Linked DNA regions of Homo sapiens: region 2 is linked to region 1. A link means that fine-mapping ties the variant in region 1 to the expression of a gene that starts in the linked region. Tissue or cell type: gastroesophageal junction. Region 1 holds a variant in brackets; the other region holds the start of a gene. All regions are shown on one strand. Distances are between the middles of the regions.

What was found. PIP is the estimated chance that this variant, and not a neighbour inherited with it, causes the effect. A credible set is the group of variants that fine-mapping cannot tell apart.
Region 2: it holds the start of SELENOP, and the variant in region 1 is the best candidate, but not a certain one, in a credible set for the expression of SELENOP in gastroesophageal junction (GTEx, PIP 0.65).

What each region holds. Positions count from the first base shown.
Region 1 is chr5:42,240,692-42,245,047 of GRCh38, forward strand. No RefSeq gene overlaps it. Among named protein-coding and RNA genes, the nearest start is that of LINC02996, 68 kb to the left of the region's middle. The variant T/C (reference allele first, on the strand shown) is at 1,939.
Region 2 is chr5:42,810,317-42,814,316 of GRCh38, forward strand. It overlaps SELENOP (selenoprotein P), which reads right to left and starts at 1,576. Exons shown (of 5, transcript NM_005410.4): 1 at 1,520-1,576. RefSeq lists an enhancer at 1,735-2,300.

The DNA.
Region 1 (4,356 bases):
TCAAATTAACAAGACTAACAAGCAAAATTGCTAGATCCAAAGTTGATATCAAAATAAAAATTGCATTTCCATATACAAGCAATAAATAAAAGAGAAATTTTGAAACCAGCCACCAATTTTAGCAGACAATTTAAAAAATTTAAGAATAAATCTAACCAAGGGTGAATAAAACCTCTACTCAGAAACCTAAATACATAATTGAAGGAAATTAAAGGCAACTAAACAGAAGGGTATTCCATGCTCTTGAATTTGAAGACCCACTATTATAAAACTATGAATTGCCTCCAGATTAATCTACAGATTCAATGCAATATCAATTGAAATCTCAGCTGCTATTTTTGTGGAAATAGACACAATGATTATTAAATTTATGTGAAAATGCAGAGTGAAGACCAGTTCAGATAATCTCAAAGAAGGAAAATAGAAAACAGTGGAGGAAAGACTTATTTTACTAGATACTAAATACCACTTACAAAGCTACAGAAATTAAAACAATGTGGAACTAGTACCAGATTAGACAAATTAGCCAATGAGACAGAAGATCCCCCACCACCACCTCACAAAGACCTACAAACATACAGCCACTTGATATATGATAATGGAGGCACTACAGAGCAGAAAGAGCAAAACATGTTATTTTCTATAGACTGTACTGAGACAATTGGTTTTCTCTATGGGGAAAAATGAATCTAACCCTAACTTATACCACATAAAAATAAATCCTAAGTGATAACTGAATGTGAGAAGTAGTGTGAACGTTGTATTAAAAGAGAAACAAGCTATACTAACAATAAAGGAAAAGCATAGTACATTTGATTACAATAAATTTTAAAACTTCTTTTCATCAAAAGATAAGAGTAAGAGTGTGAAATGGTAAACCAGATAGTGGTAGAGAATATTTATGATGCATATACTTGACAGAAGGCTATCACACATAATATTCCTACAAATCAATAAGAACACAGAAACCTAGTAGAAATCTAGTAGAAAAATGGCAAAGGGACTTAAAAGGGATTTATTACAAAGAAAAGCAAAATCACTAAAAACATCATATGAAAAGGTGTTCATTCTCTTTAGACATCAGAAAAATTCAAAATAAAACCACAAGAAAATACTCTTCCCACCTCACCAGGATGACTCAACTCGGAAGACTAAATATCAAGGGTAAGCCAGGCTGTGGAACAAGATTTAATAAAAAAACAAAACGCATCTATGTGCTAAGAGACAAATGCAAGAAAATTCATAGTGATATTATTCATAATAGTAAAAAACTGTAAACAACTCTAATGTCTATAAGAAGTATAATAAACTAATTGTGGCAACTTCATTTTATTTACTAGATAAACAAACTACATCTATATGGAGCAACATGAAAAAAATCTCATAAGCAACCTGAGAGAAATAAACCAAATAGAATATACATAAAGCATGAGTCCATTTATCTGAAGTTCAAAATCAAGTGATACTAGACAATACAGTTTAAGGATAAATTACTTGAAGGGTAAATGTATAAAGAACAGCAAGTAACGTGAGATACCTGGTATACAATCCTTTCCTACTTATCCACTGGTCATGTCACTAAAATTCTCATCATCATTTGTAAAATGAGTAATGTTATTTACCTCTCAAGATTGTTGTAACAGTAAAATGAGATACTGCATGTAAAACTCTGAGTATACAGCCTGGGGGTTTAATTGGTGGTTTCAGTCTCTGAGGGGGCCATTTGACTGCTATCCTTCATAGTTCTGCATCAACTGATGTTGGAAAAGAATCAAAATATGAGCATAATGACTCATAAATCTGATAAACATGGTTCAACCACACTAAAGCAGCATATTCCTAGCTCTTTGGGAAAGGGAGTTCCCAGCACCAAACTTAAAGTCCTTGGAGTTTTGTGAATGGGGAGAGAGAAAGTGCAGGCATAATACTTCGTTATTC[T/C]ACCTCTAATGAAGAAACAGTGGCCAAAAGATATCAGAATCTTTCCATTCCAACCATCAGATAAACCGATCCCCCTCCCATAGAGGAAGTGTTATATCATTGAAGCCCACCCTCATGGAAGGAGAAGGGTAGTTTCCCCTGAACACCTGATACATACTAAAGACTTACTGCTAAGATGATGATGAGGTTAATGATAATTTAAAAAATTAAAATAACATGTACCCATTCAATAAAAGACCTATAAGCTATAGCTCTTCAGTTTAATTCCAAAACAATCTTAGGAGCCAATTGGCAGAATATTTCACAAACACAAATGTTCTAATCATACCTTAAGAAAGAGCTTTGCACAATCGGTGTAAACAGTCATCTGGTGGTGAGAGTTCCAAGAAGAGGCCCTACTGAAAATAGCATCTTAACTCCCAGTCCAACAGCCTATTGCTGTGTGTGTGATTGCTTTGAGTTTGAAGATCACGGCACTAGAAAACTCTTGTTGAAAGGGTCACTAACAAGGTTCATTCTTTGCTGTACTCACTTCCACTTGAAAGTTTTGTTAGTATACTAAGAAATTAGCCATTAGAGTGTTTTAGAAAAAAAGGAGCCAAACCCAGGGGGGTGGTAAGCCTGAAGCTGAAAGCTGATGAAAGTAGAGAGTCGGAAAGTTTTGGAGCTTGGAAAGCTGCCTGTTGGGAAGTGTGAGGCCCAGGGGAGGACATCCTGCAGAGAATCCAGAGCAAAGGAGAAATGAAGGCGAACTTTATTTACTTCAGCGTTTGGCCAAGGGCTATTCCCACTTTGGGTTATCAGTTTTTAATGCCTTGATGTTAATAATGATGTAACTTTACATAGACAATAAATCCCCTATGAACCCAAGGAGGCAGAGCTTATGGCATCCCTGGCTTATAATGCACTGCTGGGAAATATATAGAACCCTTAAGACCAAATACCTAATCTTTCCCAGAGATGGGTAATGGAATAACTGACTGGGTTACAAATCTATTTATGGGACATTTTGAAACATACATAGTGGGTTTAAATCCAAAAGGCAAATATAAACAGTTACGATTGTGTGCGTTACATGTATTTTATTCAACCCATAGATTTGTAGGTACAAGAATGAAACAACAGCAACAAAGGAAAAAAAATCAGCAAACCAAAACAATAGTAGAATTTATTTATTTGCCTGGGAACAGGCATTGTGAAGAAATTCACTCAATAGTTCTCTAAGAGGAAAATGTCAGTGTTTTTTAAGTGCTAGCATATGGACAGGCATTCATGGCGCTTACACATCACGACATTAATTGAAACCAGTACTTTGGACAGAATAATGAGTCCCTACCTCTGTTCATAATTGGTTAAAATAAATCCCATTGTTTACTGGTCAGGAAAGGGTCTTCTGTTTGTTCCAGTGAAAATCTGGTGTGCTGTAGTAGCCCAACATTCACAGCCATTAATCAGCTTCTGCTGGTCAGAACCAGTTGCTTTGAAATGCAACATTGGTTTTGATATCTCATAGGAAAGCATGACTGTAAGTAGATAACTTTCCCTATACACAGGTAATTGTGCCTTTCTGCTCCTTTTAATTTTGTTAGGAGAAGCCCCAATCTAGATGGACATGTCTGCTCTATTTGTTATCCAAGACAGAATTCCCCCAAGTCCATCACGCACTGAAGAGTCTTTCATTGTACCAAGGCCAGAACTTCATATTTTCCCTTGTTCCTGTCACTGTTACACCCCCAGGGGCTGTTCTCCTTCCCAGGAACTTCACCCTGTTCCTACTGCCTGTCTGGAGTTAAATGGAGACAAGCATGATTAAAACTACCAGTAAGACAAGTTTAGAAAATGAACTTTTTCTTGGTTTCAAGAACATGTACAAATGCTTTTGATATAATAGTAAGTTAAAGAATAAGAAAAATTTACATGATGTGCTTATTTCACATTGCATGTCTGTATCAAAACATCTCATGTACCCCATAAGTATATACACCTACTAAGTACCCACAAAAATTAAAAATAAAAATAAGAAAAAAAATATCAATGGTATGGTGTCAACTACATGGTAAAAAGACTAGAAGGAATAAAGCCCTGTGGTTAACAAGGTAAACCATGGTCTCTTTGGGGTGGTAGAATAACATGTGACTTTCTTCCACTTTATCATACTCCCCAATCCTGTCCCTTCTTTTAAACAGTATGTTTAGTACTCTAATAACCAGGAAGAGAAAAAGAATCTGATCCAAAAGACTGAAGTCAATTCAGTGAAAATAGGTTGAAACATTATAATTCAGGATTTGGAATCTTATTTAATGATATACTACATAATAGTAAAAGTTAAAACAAAAGAAATTAACATTAATACTTATTTAACTTAAATACATTTATGTAGACTTATAAAGTTTTTTTCATATTTTTTCAAACATATGA
Region 2 (4,000 bases), 570 kb after region 1:
TTCAAGCTGTTTTATTTCTTAATAGAAAGGCTAGGTTTTCTCTGTTTCCTAGACCACAAATTCAGTAGTTACAGAACCTTGGCAAAAAATCAGCACTTGGTTTTTTCACTTTGCCACAGAGCACATATTTATTTATCTATTTATTTATTTATTTATTTTTTGAGACGGAGTCTTGCTCTGTTACCCAGGCTGGAGTGCAATGGCGCAATCTCAGCTCACTGCAAACTTCGCCTCCCGGGTTCAAGCAATTCTCCTACCTCACCCTCCCAAGTAGCTGGGATTACAGGCTCTCGCCACCACGTCCTGCTAATTTTTTTATTTTTAGTAGAGACGGGGTTTCACCATGTTGGCCAGGCTGGTCTTACACTCCTCACCTCGTGATCCGCCTGCCTTGGCCTCCCAAAGTGCTGGGATTACAAGCGTGAGCCACCGCGTCCAGCCCAGAGCACATATTGCAAGTAGCTGAATGGTGAATACAAATGAAAAGACTGTTTCACTCATTTCCCTCATTTAGGTTTATGATGAAAAAATAACCCATTGGCAGAGAGTTGTAGCTTAAGAGTTCACACTTTCGGATTTCTTCTGTCATTATAATCAACAGGCTGCTCAATTTTGTTTTCTTAAAATTATTTCTTACACCGTAAACCTTTGATAATTATAGTTGTCAGACAGCTATATAAAAATAATGAAGATAAATAACAAAATTGGGTTTCCTGGAAGCTGATCCAATAAGAATTGAAAAGTAGTTGTAAATTTCACTATGTCACCACTTTTCAATTGCGAAACTTAAATTTCATGGCCACATTCAGACCTACATTTATTTAAAATTACTCATTAAAAAGCAGGATATGTACAAACTTTCTCTGTCCTCCACCTCTGAACTTTAGGCCAGCATCTGAAAGCCCCTAATTCACCTGAATGCTCTCATTCACCATTTAAAATACAAAAGTTTGCATTTAATCACAGACCACCTAATTGTTGACATGGGTTTTAGCTTCTTTAAGGGTGACCACTTCTGCACTGTGGACTGAACCTACTGTACCCCATTCCACCACTTTTTCTTCTGAAACTGCTCACAATATCCCTGGACATTTCTACAACACTAGAATGAGCATATTTCAGTGTCTGCTCTTCAAATCCAAATGGCTGGGTTTTTTCCCTGTTTGTTCTTACTCTGCCCTTCAGTGGAAAATATTTAAATTTGAACATATAATACTGCCTATGTAACATCACAACAGATTATAGAATAAAAGGTTTGGATTTCTCCAGCTTCCTCTGCTCTCAGCTGTGCAGAAGACAGGGCAGAAATCAAGAACTGACAAATGTGCGCACTGGGAACTTCACCTACCACACCTAAGTTCAGACTCTTCTTATTCTTTTTCTCTTTTATTATTTTTATTTCCTCTATCCACCAGTTTTCTGAATCTATTCTATGGAAAAAAACAATTTATCAGACTCAAAAAATATTTACCAAACTTTAAAAGAATAAAGTATCAGAAAACACGAAGTTCCTACTTACACAACCACTTCCAACGGGCCTGCTTCCTTTCTCTTTGCTTTACTCTGGCAGCTCCACAAAGCCACAGCAGCACACTCTGATATTTATAGTCCTGTTGTTTACCTCACCCCTCAGGTATAGTCCAAAGTTCAATGTTCATTCTTGCAGTGACCTTGCAAGCAGAGCAAACCCCTGAGCTGATTGTTATCAACTTAAAAGAAAGTAGCAAGTGCTGCCATGCATAATATGGGGAAAACATTTTGACAATTACTAATTTATTCCCTATCCTTTTCAGTCACCCTAGAATCTAGGATTTAATGGTACAGTCGGGGGCGGGAGGAAGGGCTAAGGGTAAACAAGGCCTCCAAGTTGCCTTCTTTCCCAAACTATAACAGGGAAAAACATTTGCTGAGCCAGCGAATTATGCTGCTGCTTTAAAAAAAAAAAAAAAAGAGAGAGAGAAGCTTTTTTTTCCTTTTGTTTTGCTTCTTGCAGTGATGAGGTGCTAGCTTAGCCCACACAGTGTGACCTTTGTTAGAAAAGTCACCTGCTGTTACAAGTTACTCTGGTCTCCTGTTGTTACAGACTTACACGTCGATTGTGTTCTATGTTTATAACTTGAATTCATATGGGATTTCACAGGACCACTGCTCTTTTCTTGTTAATTTAAGGAAATAGAAAAATAGACTTCCTATCTGAGGGAAATCAGACCTCATTTTTATTGTCACTGAAGTCGTACTTCCTGGAAGACCTATGCATCCCCAGAATTTTTTGAGGATCGAATATAAAATCTTTACAAATGTGAATACCATAAAAATAAAAATTAAAGGTAGTAGTTGGACATGGAAAGAGTGTGGAAATTTCAAGATGTACAAATGAAATAGCTAATTCCTACTATTTCAGAAGAGGGTATTTTCTTTCTGGTAACGCTTGTAAGTTGGCATGCTCACTGTAGGTGAGGTAAGGAGCAATGTCAAATGATGTCATTCCTAGATAGCAATGGTTTTCGAGTAGGCCTTGCTTTTTTCATCAATTAATTTTTTTCCAAATAATCCCCCACTGATTGCTGTATGCTGAATACTGTTGTACAAGGTGCAGGAACTACAAAGAGACTCAGATGTTATCCTTCCTTTCAAGAAACTTCCTATCAAATTAGGAGGTTACCATTTGAAATCCAAGTTCTCTTTACTTGCCCTGAGCAGTTGTTACTTGCCTTTTGGGGTCCCATATCTCTTTGAGAATCCAGTTAAAATGCACATATACATAATCATTTTTTTAAAGAGTGTCATTAAAAAAATCTTTGTACAAAGCAGATATTCCTCCCTGTAGTTCATTTCCTTGACCAATTTAAGTAGTCATATTGAGGAAAGAGAGAGACCCTCTCATATTGTTTTATACTCAGTACCTGTTTTAAGGAAAAAAAAAAACAAGGATGTGAAATCAAAGACAGGCAGCCCGGTGCCAGGCCCAAACCAGGCCTGGGCCTGCCTGGCCTAAACCCAGTAGTTAAAAATCAATTCATAACTTCGAAACCGATGTTATTCATAGATTCCAGACATTGTACAGAAGAACACTGTGAAACTCCCTGCCCTGTTCTGTTTCTCTCTGACCACCGGTGCACGCAGCCCTTGTCATGTACCCCTTGCTTGCTCCAATCAATCACAACCCTTACATGTGAAATCTTTAGTATTGTGAGCCTTTAAAAGGGACAGAAATTGTGCACTCGGGGAGCTCGGATTTTAAGGCAGTGGCTTGCCCACGCTCCCAGCTGAATAAAGCCCTTCTTTCTACAACTCAGTGTCTGAAAGGTTTTGTCTGCAGCTCGTCCTGCTACATTTCTTGGTTCCCTGACCAGGAAACGAGGTAACTGATAGACATAGACGGCAGAGCTAACCCGTTAGGCGGCTTAGGCCTGTCCTGTGGAGCGTCCCTGCAGGGGACTCCAGTCAGCCTGAGTGACGCGATCCAAAGAACGCTCCCGGGTAGGAAATTGCCCCGGTGGAATGCCTTGCCAGAGCAGCGCATAGCAGGCCCCTGCAGAGGATTAACACGGTGGCTGAACACCGGAAAGAACTGGCACTTGGAGTCGCGACATCTGAAACTTGGTAAGACTAGTCTTTGGAACTTGCCCCACTCCATCTGAGTGGAAGTGTGGCCTGATCACCCACGGCGTGCCTGTATTGGCACTTTTGTTCTGGTTTTGACTTGGCTTGACTTGGTAAGACTAGTCTTTGGAACTTGCCCCACTCCATCTGAGTGGAAGTGTGGCCTGATCACCCACAGCGTGCCTGCATTGGCACTTTTGTTCTGGTTTTGACTTGGCTTGACTTGGTAAGACTAGTCTTTGGAACTTGCCCCACTCCATCTGAGTGGAAGTGTGGCCTGATCACCCACAGCGTGCCTGCATTGGCACTTTTGTTCTGGTTTTGACTTGACTTGAATTGCTGGATACTTTGGTTTTGATTTTGACTTGGCTTGAATTTTTTGGTACTCGGATTTTGA